Linked DNA regions of Homo sapiens. The protein of the gene in region 1 purifies or fractionates together with the protein of each later gene. This does not show direct contact. Each region holds a gene or a part of one and is shown in the gene's direction. Other genes may lie near its edges.

Region 1 (5,280 bases):
TTGGCCGTGATGACAACTTCTCTGCAGTTTGCCCTGCGTGAATCTCCAGATGAACTTTTGTGCCATTTAAACTTTCGTGATCTCCTGCTATTTAACTTCGAATGTTTATGGACCTGTGGGTTCAATTTTGTGTGAATCACATCCTGCTGATTGCTGAGTGGGCGTGTGGGAGGGTGTGCCTGGAGGAGAACTTAGACTCGGCCTTTTCCAGATGAGCTTCAGTGTAAGAGTGGGTTTCATGAAGAGCAAAGGTCCTAGGAAATTTAAGTAAGCCATTTACCAACGCTCAGAAGAAAGAACTTGAAGAGCACTTGGAAATGAGCTGTGTCTCCCCAAGAAAGAGGGAGAGAAAGAGGGGAGAGATGTGGTGCAGACCCTAGGGAGGAAGGAGTTCAGAAAAACCATCCTCAGGGTGTTCTTGCTACAAACCAAAAAATGCAGCATGGTGGTGGGGAGGATGACTCTGTCCTCCCTGACTTTTAGATGAGCCCAAGGGAAAAGGCAAAGACAAAGCCCTTAAGAGCCAGAGGACTCACGAGGGCCTGGGGCTGGTGAGAGTGGCGGGGAGAGAGGGCTCACCTTGGGAGAAGGATGGTCAGTGTCTGGGGCTTTCCTGGTCATGTTCCAAATCAGGCTTGGCAGGAGTCCTGCTGTGCAAATTGCGTTTGCTGAGCCCTGTCAGAGGTCTCCTGTGTCTCACATCTAGGGTGACCAGCATCCTGGCTTCCTCAGGACTGTTCAGGTTTTAGCACTGAACATCACATGTCCTAGGGAACCCCTCAGTTTGGGCAAGCCCTGCCACATCACACAATCATATTAGTGCCCTCAGTATTCTTTGCAAACATAAAACCATAGACTCAGTAATCCCATTACTGGGTATATACCCAAAGAAATATAAATTATTCTACTATAAAGACACATGCACATATTTGTTTATTGCAGCACTATTCACAATAACAAAGTCATGGAACCAACCCAGATGCCCATCAATGGTAGATTGGATAAAGAAAATGTGGTACATATACACCATGGAATACTATGCAGCCATAACAAGGAATGAGATCATATTCTTTGCAAGGACATGGATGAAGCTGGAAGCCATCATCCTCCACAAACTAACACAGGAACAGAAAATCAAACACCGCATGTTCTCACTCATAAGTGGGAGTTGAACAGTGAGAATGCGTAGACGCAGGGAGGGGAACAACACACACCAGGGCTTGTGGCGGGGTGAGGGGTGAGGGGAGGAACTTAGAGGATAGGTCAATAGGTGCAGCAAACCACCATGGCATATGTATCCCAGAACTTCAAGTAAATAATAATAATAATAATTAATAATAATAATAATAATAAATAAACCCATAAAGCCATTTGAGAGATTCTTGGGGGATTCATTGGACCACTGAAAATCTACAGTGAGAAAAGAATTGCCATGTTGATGAAACAGGAAAACTTTCCTTGTCCCCCTCACAGAGCATGTGACAGCGGGAGGGGCTCACTTTCTCAGTGCGCCACTGCTCAAACCTCTAGGGGAGCATACAGACGGGCAGGTTGTGGGGCTCTGACCTCACCGGCAGTGTCTAGAGGTGGATGTTTACAGCTCCTGAAGCTCCAGTGGGCGTGGGTTATGGCCTTCTTTTAGTTTTGCCCTCTATAGTCAGCTTGTGTTAACCAGCTCAATTACACCCTCTACCTTGTCGCAAGGACAGAGGGCTTTCTGTATCCTGGGGGCTTGCCTTGGTGTACCAGAAGAATCGAATCCCACCTGGGCTTGGAGAATGAGTGCAAGGATTTATTGAGTGGATGTAGCTCTCAGCAGATGGGGGAAGCCAGAAGGGGATGGAATGGGAAGGGTTTCCCCTGGAGTCAGACCGCTCAGTGGCCCGGGCTCGGTGGCCCGGGCTCGGTGGCCTGGGCTCTCCTCCGACTGCCTCAGCCAAACTCCGCGTTGTTCTGCTGGTCAGTGGCCTGCCGGTGCCTGTTGGTGAGTTCTTCTCAATGTCCAGCTGTCCTTGCGTCCCTCCGCTGATGTGCTCCTCCCGATGTCCAGCTACCTGTGTGTCTGCCTGCTAGGGTCTTGGGGTTTTTATAGGCACATGATGGGGGCGTGGCAGGCCAGGGTGGTTTTGGGAAATGAAACATTTAGGCAGGAAAACAAAAATGCCTGTCCTCACCTAGGTCCATGGGCACAGGTCTGGGGGTGGAGCCCTCGCCAGGGACCACACCCTCTTCTACCCAGCACTTCCCTTCCCTACTTCCATATCATTTAAAGGGACCACGCCCTTCCCAGCTCTTCCCTTCTGTATCACTGATGCCTTGCTCTGTGTTCTCTAAGTGGAATTATCACTGTGTGTATGTACAGGTGTGTGCATGTGTGTGCATGTACCTGTGCTTTTCTTTTGGAAAACTAGCACATTACCTGGATTTTGCATCTCAAGGATAATTCTGTAAGCAGGAACCCTTCCTCCTTTAGAAGGAAGTAAAGGAGAGGAAAATGCTGTAAAACTTACATATTAATAATTTTTTACTCTATCTCAAACACGCATGCCTTTAATCATAGTCTTAAGAGGAAGATATCTAATTCATAACTTACTGTATGTAGTCATCAAAGAATATGAGAAAAAATTAACTGAAAATTTTTCTTCTGGCTCTAGGAATTTGAAGCCTACATTAATGCTTCTGGAGAACATGGAATTGTGGTTTTCTCTTTGGGATCAATGGTCTCAGAAATTCCAGAGAAGAAAGCTATGGCAATTGCTGATGCTTTGGGCAAAATCCCTCAGACAGTAAGAAGATTCTATACCATGGCCTCATATCTATTTTCACAGGAGCGCTAATCCCAGACTTCCAGCTTCCAGATTAATTCTCTTAATTGGAACCTTAGATTTGGCTTTTCCCTGCCACTTCCCAACTATTAATCCAAAGGTTTTTTTTGTTGTTGTGGTTGTTGTCATTGTTTTCAATTTGACTCTCAAATACTCTATTAAACTATGATCCACCACACTCAGAAGTATCATTTTCTCTAAGAGACTCAAAAGTGTATTAGGGAGAATTTATTTAAAAATAAAATAAATGGGATATTGTTTCTTCATATTAAATAGAAGTATTTCTCCAAAAAGCTGTTGGTTAGAACACTGAATTTATGTCTTACATTTCTGCTCTTATAGTTCTGCATCCACTTGTTTCATTAAGCAAACTTTCCCTTAAAGTGCAGGAAAGTGAAAAAATCCTAAGTGCACAGCTTGATAAATTATCACAAATTCACGTAGTGCATACACCCTTGTAACTAAACCTCCAAAACAAGATGCCGGAAGTTGCCAGTCCTCAGAAGCCTTCACAGTTACTGATCCTCCCACTCTGTTAAAGACTGTTCCTTCAGAGGACCCCTGTTTTCTAGTTAGTATAGCAGATTTGTTTTCTAATCATATTATGTTCTTTCTTTACGTTCTGCTCTTTTTGCCCCTCCCAGGTCCTGTGGCGGTACACTGGAACCCGACCATCGAATCTTGCGAACAACACGATACTTGTTAAGTGGCTACCCCAAAACGATCTGCTTGGTATGTTGGGCGGATTGGATGTATAGGTCAAACCAGGGTCAAATTAAGAAAATGGCTTAAGCACAGCTATTCTAAAGGATTGTTGAGCTTGAAAATATTATGGCCAACATATCCTACATTGCTTTTTATCTAGTGGGGTATCTCAACCCACATTTTCTTCTGCAAATTTCTGCAAGGGCATGTGAGTAACACTGAGTCTTTGGAGTGTTTTCAGAACCTAGATGTGTCCAGCTGTGAAACTCAGAGATGTAACTGCTGACATCCTCCCTATTTTGCATCTCAGGTCACCCGATGACCCGTGCCTTTATCACCCATGCTGGTTCCCATGGTGTTTATGAAAGCATATGCAATGGCGTTCCCATGGTGATGATGCCCTTGTTTGGTGATCAGATGGACAATGCAAAGCGCATGGAGACTAAGGGAGCTGGAGTGACCCTGAATGTTCTGGAAATGACTTCTGAAGATTTAGAAAATGCTCTAAAAGCAGTCATCAATGACAAAAGGTAAGAAAGAAGATACAGAAGAATACTTTGGTCATGGCATTCATGATAAAATTGTTTCAAATATGAAAACATTTACGTAGCATTTAATAGCGTTGTTTCAAATATAAAAACAAATACATAAAAATCTGGATTTTTATTTCTTCTTTTTTTTTTTTTTTTTTTTTTGAGATGGAGTCTTGCTCTGTCACCTAGGCTGGAGTGCAGTGGTGCAATCTTGGCTTACTGCAACCTCCACCTCCCACGTTCAAGCAGTTCTGCCTCAGCCTCCGTGTAGCTGGGATTACAGGTGTCCACCACCACGCCCGGTTAATTTTTGTATTTTTTAGTAGAGAAAGGGTTTCACCATGTTTGTCAGGCTGGTCTTGAACTCCTGACTTCAGGTGATCCACCTGCCTCGGCCTGCCAAAGTGCTGAGATTACAGGCATGAGCCAGCGCGTCTGACCTGGATTTATAAATAAGATAATTTAGAGGTTATTATTCACTTTATAAAAGGATTCTTTAGTTTCTATATAATTTATCATATAATTTATTTAGAATTTTATTTCCCCCATTAGATTTAAAACTCCAATTTACATAAAAAGTTGCCATAATAGACATCTGATCCATAAGTTTCCTGCACAGAAAGAAATACTCCATTATAAGAAGCATAGTATCTTTAAGAGAAAAACAACTCAAATGCTTAGAAGTACAGCTTTTTGCAGCACTGGAACCTGTGAGAAATTTTGTCCATGGAGTTTATGAATGAAGGAGCTATAAGATATCACAGACAAAGTCTTAGAATAAGAGCAAAGGAAAATTTGCTCAAATGTGGCCCTGAAAACGATTCAAAGGGCAAATGATTTCTGGATTAAAGTTAGTATATTACTGTCAAGCTCACTGGTAATAGGCTTATTAGAACCTTATGGGAAGAAGTGGTGGCCAGTGGTAGATTTCATCCGACAATAGATACTGTGTGCATATGTGCGTGTGCGTTTGTGCATGTGGCTGTGCTCATGTGTGGGTGCACACGTGTGCATTCATATGCGTGTGTGTGTGTGTGCGTGTGTTTATGAGAGTGTCCATTGCTTTCTCCCATGGTTACCTCCTTTAGAAAGAAGCAGCAGTCAGGAAGACAGATGTGAAGAGCTGGAGCATGTTCAGATGAGAGGAGACGGAACACGGGGACACACCAGCTTGAGCAAGGGACAACAGGGGAGGACTGATGACTGACTTCCCACCT
Region 2 (3,500 bases), on another chromosome or scaffold:
GCCAGGAGAATTGCTTGACACCAGTAGTTCCAGACCAGCCTGGGCAACATAGCAAGACCCTGTCTCTATACAAATAGATACATCTCTATCAAAATAAATAAATAAATAAAATTTTATGGGGATGAGGTGGGGGGAAATTAAATAAAATATTTCTTAAAAGGCTCTTTAGGAGAATAATAATGAAAAAAAAAACGGTTGAGAAACCCTGATATAATATGCAACTGGGATTTGGGGGCAGATAATGTTTCATACATTTTCCTATAGAACCACAAGACTGTGATCACACACGTTGACAAAAATTCCGTCAAAGCACCTGGAATGCTTCTTTAAAGCACAGCTTCTTCTCCGGGGCTGGGACAAGTGCAGCTCCAATACCCTCTGTCCCAGCAAGAAAGACTTCAGGTGCTGGAGGGAGGCAGGTGACGGTGCCCTTCATTTGTGCAGGAAGGACGAAGACCAAGTGTTTTATGACCCACTTAAAAAAATTAAGTTCAGTGCACAAATAAGACCCCATTTGCAAGAGCACACCAGTGATAAAAGGTCCTGCCGCCTGGGTAGGAAAAAGAAAGACCGACCAGAGTAGGGGAGAGTGACAGTTTAGGTTTAGCTGGTTTAAGTTTAGCTGGTTTAGGTTTATCTGGTTTAAGTTTATCTGGTTTGTGTTTAGCTGGTTTAGGTTTATCTGGTTTAAGTTTATCTGGTTTGTGTTTAGCTGGTTTAGGTTTAGCTGGTTTAGGTTTATCTGGTTTAAGTTTATCTGGTTTGTGTTTAGCTGGTTTAGGTTTAGCTGGTTTAGGTTTATCTGGTTTGTGTTTGGCTGGTTTAGGTTTAGCTGGTTTCGGTTTAGGTGGTTTGTGTTTAGCTGGTTTAGATTTAGCTGGTTTAAGTTTAGCTGGTTTAGGTTTACCTGGCTTAGGTTTTTCTGGTTTAGGTTTAGCTGATTTGTGTTTAGTTGGTTTAGGTTTAGCTGGCTTAGCGGTTACTGGTTTAGTTTAGCTGTTTCACATTTATCTGGTTTGTGTTTAGCTGGTTTGTGTTTAGCTGGTTTAGGTTTAGCTGCTTTGTGTTTAGCTGGCTTAGGTTCAGCTGGTTTGTAGGGTCAGTGGGCAGCAGGTTGCACGAGGCTCTGCCCTTGACCACCCAGTGAACTCAGTTCCAGGAAGAGGCCGACTCAGTCAGCCAGACCCTGGCGAAGCTCAACTCCAACTTGGATGCCAAGTACAGCCCTGCACCTGGGGGCCCCCCTGGCGCCCCCACAGAGCTGCTGCAACAGCTGGAGGTGAGACAACCCCACCAGGCCGTCTGCACCCCACTTCTGGGAATTGGTCCTGTCCATTTTTCTGGGCCTCACCCCTTCTGCCTTGGTACCTAGTCCTATCCCAAGCCCTGGCCTGGGTGCTGGCAGGGGGGTTTACTCTAGCAGGAGGCTGGCCAGGTACCAGCAAGCTCCTCCCACTTCTGGACGTCAGTTTCCTCATTTGCAGTGGGACAAGGGCAGCCTGGGAGAGCTCTGAGGCCTGTCTAGCTTCTGCTTGGTGGCCTGGGTGATGCTGTGCCATCCCCCTCCCTGCAACTAGCAGATCCCAGGATCCTAGGTCCCCCAGAGAGGGGCTCCTTTTACTTTGCTGACTTAGAGACCCCTGCCTTCATGAAGGCCAGCCTCTAGGCCTTTTGAAGGACAGGTATGGTGTGGCCAGCCTCCAATGCAGCCTGGCCTGAGTCCCCCACTGCCTGGGCCCCCGGCAGGCAGAGGAAAAACGGCTGGCCGTCACCGAGAGGGCCACTGGGGACCTGCAGCGGCGAAGCCGGGATGTGGCCCCTCTGCCACAGCGAAGAAACCCCCCTCAGCAGCCCCTGCACGTGGACAGCATCTGCGACTGGGACTCAGGAGAAGTGCGAACTCCCCCACCTCACCCCTGCCACCATCCAGCCCCGCCCAACCCATCCCCTGCCCCTGCCCAAGCCCATCCCTGCTCCATCCCCAGCTGTCTCCTGCGCCCACTTTTGCCCTACTCCTTCCCTTGACTCAGACCCTCCTCTCTCCAAGTCCTGTCCTGCCTCTTTTCTACCCCAGCACCTCCCACCCTACTCTTGTCCCTGTTCCAGCTGCTGTCCCCATTTGTCTCTGTCCCCAGCCCCTACTCTGCCCTGGCCTTGGCCCCCTGCCCCTGAGCCCTCAGGAGCTGCTCCCTTTCTGTGCCCCCAGGTGCAGCTGCTGCAGGGTGAGCGGTATAAGCTGGTAGATAACACTGACCCGCACGCCTGGGTCGTGCAGGGCCCTGGCGGGGAGACCAAGCGTGCTCCCGCCGCCTGCTTCTGCATCCCAGCACCAGACCCTGATGCTGTGGCCAGGGCCTCCCGGTAGGTCTGTGTAGGGATACTCAGGGGCAGGCTGTGGGCAGAGCAGGCCGGCCCTGCGGTGTCCAAGCCCATGGCCCAACAGACCCCTGCTCAAAGGCTGGCCTTCACCTGAAGCTGCGTCTACTGGGGCTGGGGAGGGAGAGAGGCAGAGTGGGGACCTCTTTCTTCAATCTCCTCTTCATTCTAGGCTGGCCTCAGAGCTGCAGGCCCTGAAGCAGAAATTGGCCACAGTCCAGAGCCGCCTGAAGGCCAGTGCTGTGGAGTCTCTTCGGCCCAGCCAGCAGGGTACCCAGGGTGGCCCGGGGAGAGGTGGCTGTGGGGCTAGAAGGAGTAGATTCCGACTTCCGACTGGTCTGTGATGGGCAGGGGTCGCCTTGGGTTAGGGACCATCACTCTGGGGATTTCATCTCTGGGGTGGCCCTGCCCATCCCCTCCACCCTACCCCGACAGGACCCTCTGTGGGCACCTGGTGGGGGCACCTATCTGGCAGTCTGGAGATAGGCCCTGGGCCCTCACCAGCACCTCTGCCCCCAGCTCCATCTGGCTCAGACCTGGCCAACCCACAGGCCCAGAAGCTCCTGACACAGATGACCCGGCTGGATGGAGACCTGGGACAGATAGAGAGGCAGGTGCTGGCCTGGGCGCGGGCCCCGCTGAGCCGCCCCACACCCTTGGAGGACTTGGAGGGCCGCATCCACAGCCATGAGGTGGGTGAGCAGCGGGAAGGGGCGGCTGGGATGAGAAGCGGCCCGGCCCTGGTGCTCACACTTGAGGGAGGTGAGGCAAGTGCAGGAGCGGTGGCTGGGATGGAGATGGAGAAGGGTGTGGACAGACCCGGGCTCAGACAAGCTGGTTCCCCTCCTGGCTCCTCCACTGACCAGCTCCAGGATCTTGGACTACATAACTCTCTGGGCCTTGGTTTCCTCATCCCTGAAGCAGATGTAATAATGCCCAGCTCGCCTGATCATTCAGGAAGGTTCCAGTAGGGCCCAATGTCAACACCCCAGGAGGTATTCTGGTGAAGCTCCTGAAATAGCAAGGAAGCCTGGAGAATCTTAGGAAGAGATGTCCCCTGGCTGCAAGGGGGAGCCTACCTGGGGAGGTTGCAGCATTGTGTAAACTCCTTACCCAAGAACAGC
Region 3 (3,500 bases), on another chromosome or scaffold:
TTGACCTCGCTAGGAGAAGAGGGGTCTGGCCTAACGTCACACAGCTCGGGGTGGCAATCCTGTCCCTTCTCTATGGTGCTACTCTCACTCCATCTCCCCTTGCTACACATCGTGCTCAAGGAACAGGCAGCTTCGGTGGGGGGGGCGCCGGGCATGGTGGCTTATGCCTGTCATCCAGCACTTTGCAAGGAGGCCCTGGTATAAGGATCACTTGAGGCCAGTAGTTCAAGAGCAGCCTGGGCAACATAGTGAGGCCATCACCACAAAAAATTAAAAAATTAGCCAGGGATGGTGATGTGTGCCGGTAGTCCCAGCTGCTGAGGCAGGAGAATCACTTGAGCCTGGGATGTCAAGGGTGCAGTGAGCTATGACCACACCACTGCACTCTGGTCTGGGCAACAGACGCAGACCCTGTCTTTCTTTTTTTCTTCTTTTTTTTTTTTGAGCTGGAGTCTCGCTCTGTCGCCAGGCTGGAGTGCGATGGCGTGATCTTGGCTCACTGCAACCTCTGCCTCCCGGGTTCAAGCGATTCTCCTGCCTCAGCCTCCCGAGTAACTGGGATTATAGGCACCCGCCACCACGCCCGGCTAATTTTTCTATTTTTTTTTAGTAGAGACAGGGTTTCACTCTATTGGCCTGACTGGTCTTGAACTCCTAACCTCAGGTGATCCACCCTCCTCGGCCTGCCAAAATGCAAGGGTTACAGGCGTGAGCCACTGTGCCCAGCTGGGATACCCTGTTTTTTTTGTTTTTGTTTTTTGTTTTTGAGATGGAGTCTTGCTCTGTTGTCCAGGCTGGAGTGCTGTGGCGTGTTCTTGGCTCACTGCAACCTCCGCCTCCCGGGTTCAAACAATTCTCTTGCCTCAGCCTCCTGAGCAGCTGGGATTACAGGCGTGTGCCACCACGTCCAGCTAATTTTTGTATTTTTAGTAGAGATGGGGTTTCACCATGTTGGCCAGGCTGGTTCAACTCCTGACTTCGGGATCCACCCGCCTCAGTCTCCCAAAATGCTGGGATTACAGGAATGAGCCACAGCGCTCGGTCTGTATTTAAGAAAAATTTTTGTTTTAAGTTTTTTTTCTTTTTAAAAATATATCTTTTTCAGGGCGGGCGCGGTGGCTCATGCCTGTAATCCCAGCACTTTGGGAGGCCAAGGTGGGGGGATCACGAGGTCAGGAGATCGCGACCATCCTGACTAACATGGTGAAACTCCGTCTCTACTAAAAATGCAAAAAATTAGCCGGGCATGGTGGCAGGGGCCTGTAGTCCCAGCGACTCGGGAGGCTGAGGCAGGAGAATGGCGTGAACCTGGGAGGCAGAGCTTGCAGTGAGCTGAGATTGCATCACTGCACTCCAGCCTAGGGGACAGAGCGAGACTCCATGTCAAAAAATAAAAATAAAAAAATATATATATATCTTTTTCTTTTTCTGAGATGAGGCTTGCACTGTGGCCCAGGCTGGAGTGCAGTGGTGAGATTATTGACAGCCGTTGTGGGGCCGCGGTTCTAAGTTTAAAAGAATTTAGGCTGGGTGTGGTGGCTAATGCCTGTCATCCCAGCACTTTGGGAGTCCAAGGTGGATGGATCGCTTTAGCTGCAAAGTTTGAGACCAGCCTGGGCAACATACTGAGACCCTATCTAAGAAAAAAATAAATAAATAAAATAAAATAAATGAATAAAAAAGAATTTAAAAAAGAATCCCACAGCAAAGACAATGCACCATAGAGCAATTTATTGCCAAGGAAAGGTATTTTGGAAGTTAAGTTTAGAACAGCCTGGGTGCACTGGCTCATGCCTGTAATCCCAGCACTTTTGGAGGCCGAGATGGGTGGATCACTTGAGCTCAGAAGTTCAAACCAGCTTAGCCAACATTAGCTGGACATTGTGGTGTGAGCCTGCAATCCCGGCTACTCAGGAGGTTGAGATGGGAGAATTGTTTGAACCCGGGAGGTGGAGGTTGCAGTCAGCTGAGATTGCAACACTGCACTCCAGCCTAGGTGACAGAGTGACACCCCCATCTCAAAAAAAATAGTGAAGTGCAAAATGCACAGTTCACCCTGAGACACAGAATTCAGGACAGGCTGCTCGTAAGGATGAGACAGCACCGATTATTACTGGGGAAACTCCCTTTCTGGGAGTCTTCCGTGATGAATTCCTAAGGAGCTGGGAAGAGGTGTTACTGTAAGCACGTTCTGGGCCGTCCTCTGGTTGCACATGCGTAGTAGCTGTACATGCTTGTTCACACGTCACGTGTCTCAGTGCCGTGGTTGGCATGTCTGAGGGACACGGTCACTTCCTTGACTACCTATCCTGCCTCAAGATCATAGCTCACTGCAGCCCCGAACTCCTGGCTCAAGCAATCCTCCCACTTCAGCCTCCCAAGTAGCTGGGGCTGCCGGGGCTGCAAGCACGCACCACCACGACCGGCTGATTGTTTGTATTTTTAGGGAAGAAGTGGTTTCCCTATGTTACCCAGGCTGGTCTTGAACTCCTGGTCTCAAGCGATCCTCCCACCCCAGCCTCCTCAAGTGTTGGGATTACAGGTGTGACCACTGCACCTGGCCAAAATCTTTTTTTAAATTAAAAAAAGCACCGGGTGCGGTGGCTCACACCTGTAATCCCAGCACTTTGGGAGGCCAAGGCGGGTGGATCACCTGAGGTCAGGGGTTCAAGACCAGCCTGGCCAATATGACAAAACCCATCTCTACTAAAAATATAAAAATTCGCCAAGCATGGTGGTGCACGTCTATAATCCCAGGTACTTGGGAGGCTGAGACAGGAGAATCACCTGAACCCCAGAGGTGGAGGTTGCAGTGAGCCGAGATCATGCCACTGCACTCCAGCCTGGGGGACAGAGTGAGACTCCGTCTCAAAAAAAAAAAATAAGAAATTAAATTTAAAAAAAGCAACAGAAACAAATGGCTGCCTGGCAGCGGTGGCTGCAGGGCGCTCCTGTTTGTGTGACTCAGGTCGTGTCCCTCCCTCAGCCCTGGTCTCTCTTGTTTCTTGCAGGGCTGGTGAATTACCAGATCTCTGTCAAGGGCAGTAACCTGTTCAAGTTGGAAGTGCGTCTTTTGGATGCAGAAAACAAAGTCGTGGCGAATGGGACTGGGACCCAGGGCCAACTTAAGGTGCCAGGTGTCAGCCTCTGGTGGCCGTACCTGATGCACGAACGCCCTGCCTATCTGTATTCATTGGAGGTAATGGTGGTTTGGGACATGCCTAAGGGAGGTCTTTTGCCCCCATGTGGTGACCCTGGCTTCAGCAGGAGCCCAAGACAGGTGGATGGGCAGGCATGGTCCTCTGAGCTTTCTGATGTTTCTCACCCTTGGTGGGAGGCCCATTTTCTTTTTTTTTTTTTTTTTTGAGATGGTCTCACTCTGTCACCCAGGCTGGAGTGCAATGGCCTGATCACAGCTCACTGCAGCCTTGAACTCTCAGCCTGCAGCAGTCCTCCTGCCTTGGCCTCCTGAGTAGCTGGGACTACAGGCACATGCCACC
Region 4 (3,298 bases), on another chromosome or scaffold:
ATGCCCTCCCAAGGACAAGAGACCTCTTCCACCAAGCACTGCTCAGTGACCTTCGGACTTCTAGTAGCTTCCATGGTCATGACTGCCCATCACTTAGACACACAAGAACCATCCATGAGGCTGGGCATGGTGGCTCATGCCTGTAATCCCAGCACTTTGGGAGGCTGAGGTGGGCGGATCACCTGAGGTCGGGAGTTCGAGACCAGCCTGACCAACATGGAGAAACCCTGTCTCTACTAAAAATACAAAATTAGCCGGACATGGTGGTGCATGCCTGTAATCCCAGCTACTCGGGAGGCTGAGGCAGGAGAATCACTTGAACCCTGGAGGCAGAGGTTGCAGTGAGCCAAGATCGCACCATTGCACTGCAGCCTGGGCAACACGAGTGAAACTCTGTCTCAAAACAAAACAAAACAAAAACAACAACAAATGCTAGTTAACATGATGACAACAATGATGTTGATGACACGCCTGGTCACCTCATGGTGACAGGGGTTAGTTAACCATGGCAGTGAATTCAAGTGATGTCTTATCATTCAATGGCTGTCCAGTGACCACTAACCACCCAATATTCAATGACCAGGGAATTCCTGGGCCCAGTGACTCCCCAGGGGCTGCAGTTCCCTGGGTCCTTTGGGATGGAGCATTGTCCACTTAGGGTCTGTTTTAAGATCAATAGTGGCCAGGTGCAGTGGCTCACGCCTGTAATCCCAGCACTTTAGGAGGCCGAGGCAGGCAGATCACTTGAGCTCAGGAGTTTGAGACTAGCCTGGGCAACATTGCGAGACCTTGTCTCTACTAAAGATACAATAAATAAGCTGGGCGTGGTGACTTGTGCCTGTAGTCCCTGCTATTCCGGGGGGCTGAGGTGAGAGGATTGCTTGAGCCTGGGAGGTCGAGGCTGCAGTGAGCCGTGATTGTGCCACTGCCCGCCAGCCTGGGAAAAACAGTGAGACTTTGTTTCAAAAGAAAAAAAAAGGCCAGGCGTGGTGGCTCATGCCTGTAATCCCAGCACTTTGGGAGGCTGAGACAGTGGATCACAAGGTCGGGAGTTTGAGACCAGCCTGACCAACATGGTGAAACCCCATCTCTACTAAAAATACAAAAATTAGCCGGGTGTGGTGGGATGCGCCTGTAATCCCAGCTACTCAGGAGGCTGAGGCAGGAGAATCACTTGAACCTGGGAGGCGGAGGTTGCAGTGAGCTGAGATCACGCCACTGTACTCCAGCCTGGGCAACAGAGAGGGACTCCATCTCAAAAAAAAAAAAAAAAATTACTTAAAAAAAAAAAAGACCAATAGCACTCACTGGGATTTGGGTCCTACTGGGGCCATGCAGTTCCCCAAGAAACTGCAGCCCCTGGGGACTCACTGGGCCCAGGAATTCCCTGGTCATTGGATATTGGGTGGTTAGTGGTCACTGGACAGCCATTGAGTGATAAGACGTCACTTGAATTCACTGCCCATGGTTAATGCTGTCACCAGGAGATGATCATGGTCACACTAGGGCCATAATTGGTAATGAATGGTCAACAGAGTTCCCATGACTAATGACCACTTAGTGACTGTTGAACTCTAATGGCTGTAGCTGGTGCTGGGACCCTTGGGTCGTTGGTGGTGGTTCCCCCCAGTGACCAGCGGCTGCTACCATAGGTCTGGTACATGGATGGCTATTACAAAGGCCGCCGGGTCCTGGAGTTCCGTACCCTGGGAGACTTCATCAAAGGCCAGAACTTTATCCAGCACCTGCTGCCCCAGCCGTGGGCGGGCACGGGCCACGTGGTGTACAACGGCTCCCTGTTCTATAACAAGTACCAGAGCAACGTGGTGGTCAAATACCACTTCCGCTCGCGCTCTGTGCTGGTGCAGAGGAGCCTCCCGGGCGCCGGTTACAACAACACCTTCCCCTACTCCTGGGGCGGCTTCTCCGACATGGACTTCATGGTGGACGAGAGCGGGCTCTGGGCTGTGTACACCACCAACCAGAACGCGGGCAACATCGTGGTCAGCCGGCTGGACCCGCACACCCTCGAGGTCATGCGGTCCTGGGACACCGGCTACCCCAAGCGCAGCGCTGGCGAGGCCTTCATGATCTGCGGTGTGCTCTACGTGACCAACTCCCACCTGGCTGGGGCCAAGGTCTACTTCGCCTATTTTACCAACACGTCCAGTTACGAGTACACGGACGTGCCCTTCCACAACCAGTATTCCCACATCTCGATGCTGGATTACAACCCCCGGGAGCGCGCCCTCTATACCTGGAACAACGGCCACCAGGTGCTCTACAATGTCACCCTGTTTCACGTCATCAGCACCTCTGGGGACCCCTGAGCCAATGCTGTGGCTCGGGCTGCTGCCTGGGGGGCCTCTGGGGGCTGGGGGCCCTTTTCATTCTGCCTGTGTCCCTCAAGGGTGATCTCTCTGTCTCTGTCACGCCCTTTCTCCCCGCCTTTTTGCTGGGCTTTTGTTCTCTGCCTATGTATTTCTGTCTATTTTTTCAATTTCCCCTCTTCTCCTTTATTGATCTCTGCTTTTAATACACCACTTCTTTCTTTCTGCCTTTTTATGGATGTCTTTTTCTTTTTATGGCTCTGGTTCTCCAGTTCTTTCCGTCTCTGCCTCTCTCTGTCTCTCTCTCTCTGTCCTTCCACCCCTCCCTCCTTGCTTCCCACCCATTCCTCATCCCTCACTCCCACCCCCACCCCCACCCCCAGGAGTTGAGTGCATGGATCTGTTTCTTTTTTTATTTACACTTTTTCTTTCCGGTTTGCCGGAATAAACAGGACCTTTGACATTTGACGCTTCGGTGACTGTGTGTGTCCAATGGCGACAGAGGTGGAGGTGGCCCCGAAGTCCAAGCCTGGAGACCCATCTCCAGTGAGGATCCCCTTATTCCATGACTCAAGCTTAAGCGAACTGGGGGGAAGGGGTTCCCCAGGGCCAGCCCTTTGGGGAGATGGGTGAGGAGACCCAATCCAAAGTTGTTTTGATCGAAAGCAATTCGTTTAAAAGCAGTTTGATCAAAACAACCGAGAATTCTAGCACAGCAATGAAAACTGGCCTCAAATGAGTATTCTCCCGTCACTGGATTGCCACTCTGCAATCACTGTTGATGCATTACTAAGAGGTCTGGAATTTTTTTTTTCTTTTTTTTTTTTTTGAGACAGTCTTGCTCTGTCACCCACGCTGGAGTGCAGTGGCATGATCTCAGCTCACTGCAACCTCCACCTCCCAGGTTCACACGATTCGCGTGCCTGAGCCTTCCGAGTAGCTGGGATTACAGGCACGCACCACCATGC

The links.
Region 2: the proteins of UGT1A10 (region 1) and EVPL purify together in Homo sapiens (affinity purification with mass spectrometry, with the first as the bait; one large-scale study listed by BioGRID). This does not show direct contact.
Region 3: the proteins of UGT1A10 (region 1) and GUSB purify together in Homo sapiens (affinity purification with mass spectrometry; one large-scale study listed by BioGRID and IntAct). This does not show direct contact.
Region 4: the proteins of UGT1A10 (region 1) and OLFM2 purify together in Homo sapiens (affinity purification with mass spectrometry; one large-scale study listed by BioGRID and IntAct). This does not show direct contact.

Annotation. Positions count from the first base shown.
Region 1 is NC_000002.12:233,764,380-233,769,659, forward strand, and holds part of UGT1A10 (UDP-glucuronosyltransferase 1A10 precursor), read left to right. Parts: intron 1-2,654; coding exon 2,655-2,786; intron 2,787-3,469; coding exon 3,470-3,557; intron 3,558-3,840; coding exon 3,841-4,060; intron 4,061-5,280. Other genes in the region: UGT1A8 (UDP-glucuronosyltransferase 1A8 precursor), read left to right, coding at 2,655-2,786, 3,470-3,557, 3,841-4,060; UGT1A9 (UDP-glucuronosyltransferase 1A9 precursor), read left to right, coding at 2,655-2,786, 3,470-3,557, 3,841-4,060; UGT1A7 (UDP-glucuronosyltransferase 1A7 precursor), read left to right, coding at 2,655-2,786, 3,470-3,557, 3,841-4,060; UGT1A6 (UDP-glucuronosyltransferase 1A6 isoform 1 precursor), read left to right, coding at 2,655-2,786, 3,470-3,557, 3,841-4,060; UGT1A5 (UDP-glucuronosyltransferase 1A5 precursor), read left to right, coding at 2,655-2,786, 3,470-3,557, 3,841-4,060; UGT1A4 (UDP-glucuronosyltransferase 1A4 precursor), read left to right, coding at 2,655-2,786, 3,470-3,557, 3,841-4,060; UGT1A3 (UDP-glucuronosyltransferase 1A3 precursor), read left to right, coding at 2,655-2,786, 3,470-3,557, 3,841-4,060; UGT1A1 (UDP-glucuronosyltransferase 1A1 precursor), read left to right, coding at 2,655-2,786, 3,470-3,557, 3,841-4,060.
Region 2 is NC_000017.11:76,017,307-76,020,806, reverse strand, and holds part of EVPL (envoplakin), read left to right. Parts: intron 1-1,153; coding exon 1,154-1,279; intron 1,280-1,746; coding exon 1,747-1,893; intron 1,894-2,206; coding exon 2,207-2,361; intron 2,362-2,548; coding exon 2,549-2,646; coding exon of another isoform or gene 2,647-2,712; intron 2,713-2,895; coding exon 2,896-3,068; intron 3,069-3,500. UniProt on the Homo sapiens protein: Component of the cornified envelope of keratinocytes. May link the cornified envelope to desmosomes and intermediate filaments.
Region 3 is NC_000007.14:65,975,714-65,979,213, reverse strand, and holds part of GUSB (beta-glucuronidase isoform 1 precursor), read left to right. Parts: intron 1-3,011; coding exon 3,012-3,199; intron 3,200-3,500. UniProt on the Homo sapiens protein: Plays an important role in the degradation of dermatan and keratan sulfates.
Region 4 is NC_000019.10:9,853,218-9,856,515, reverse strand, and holds the end of OLFM2 (noelin-2 isoform 2 precursor), read left to right. Parts: intron 1-1,652; coding exon 1,653-2,330; 3' UTR 2,331-2,798; downstream 2,799-3,298. UniProt on the Homo sapiens protein: Involved in transforming growth factor beta (TGF-beta)-induced smooth muscle differentiation.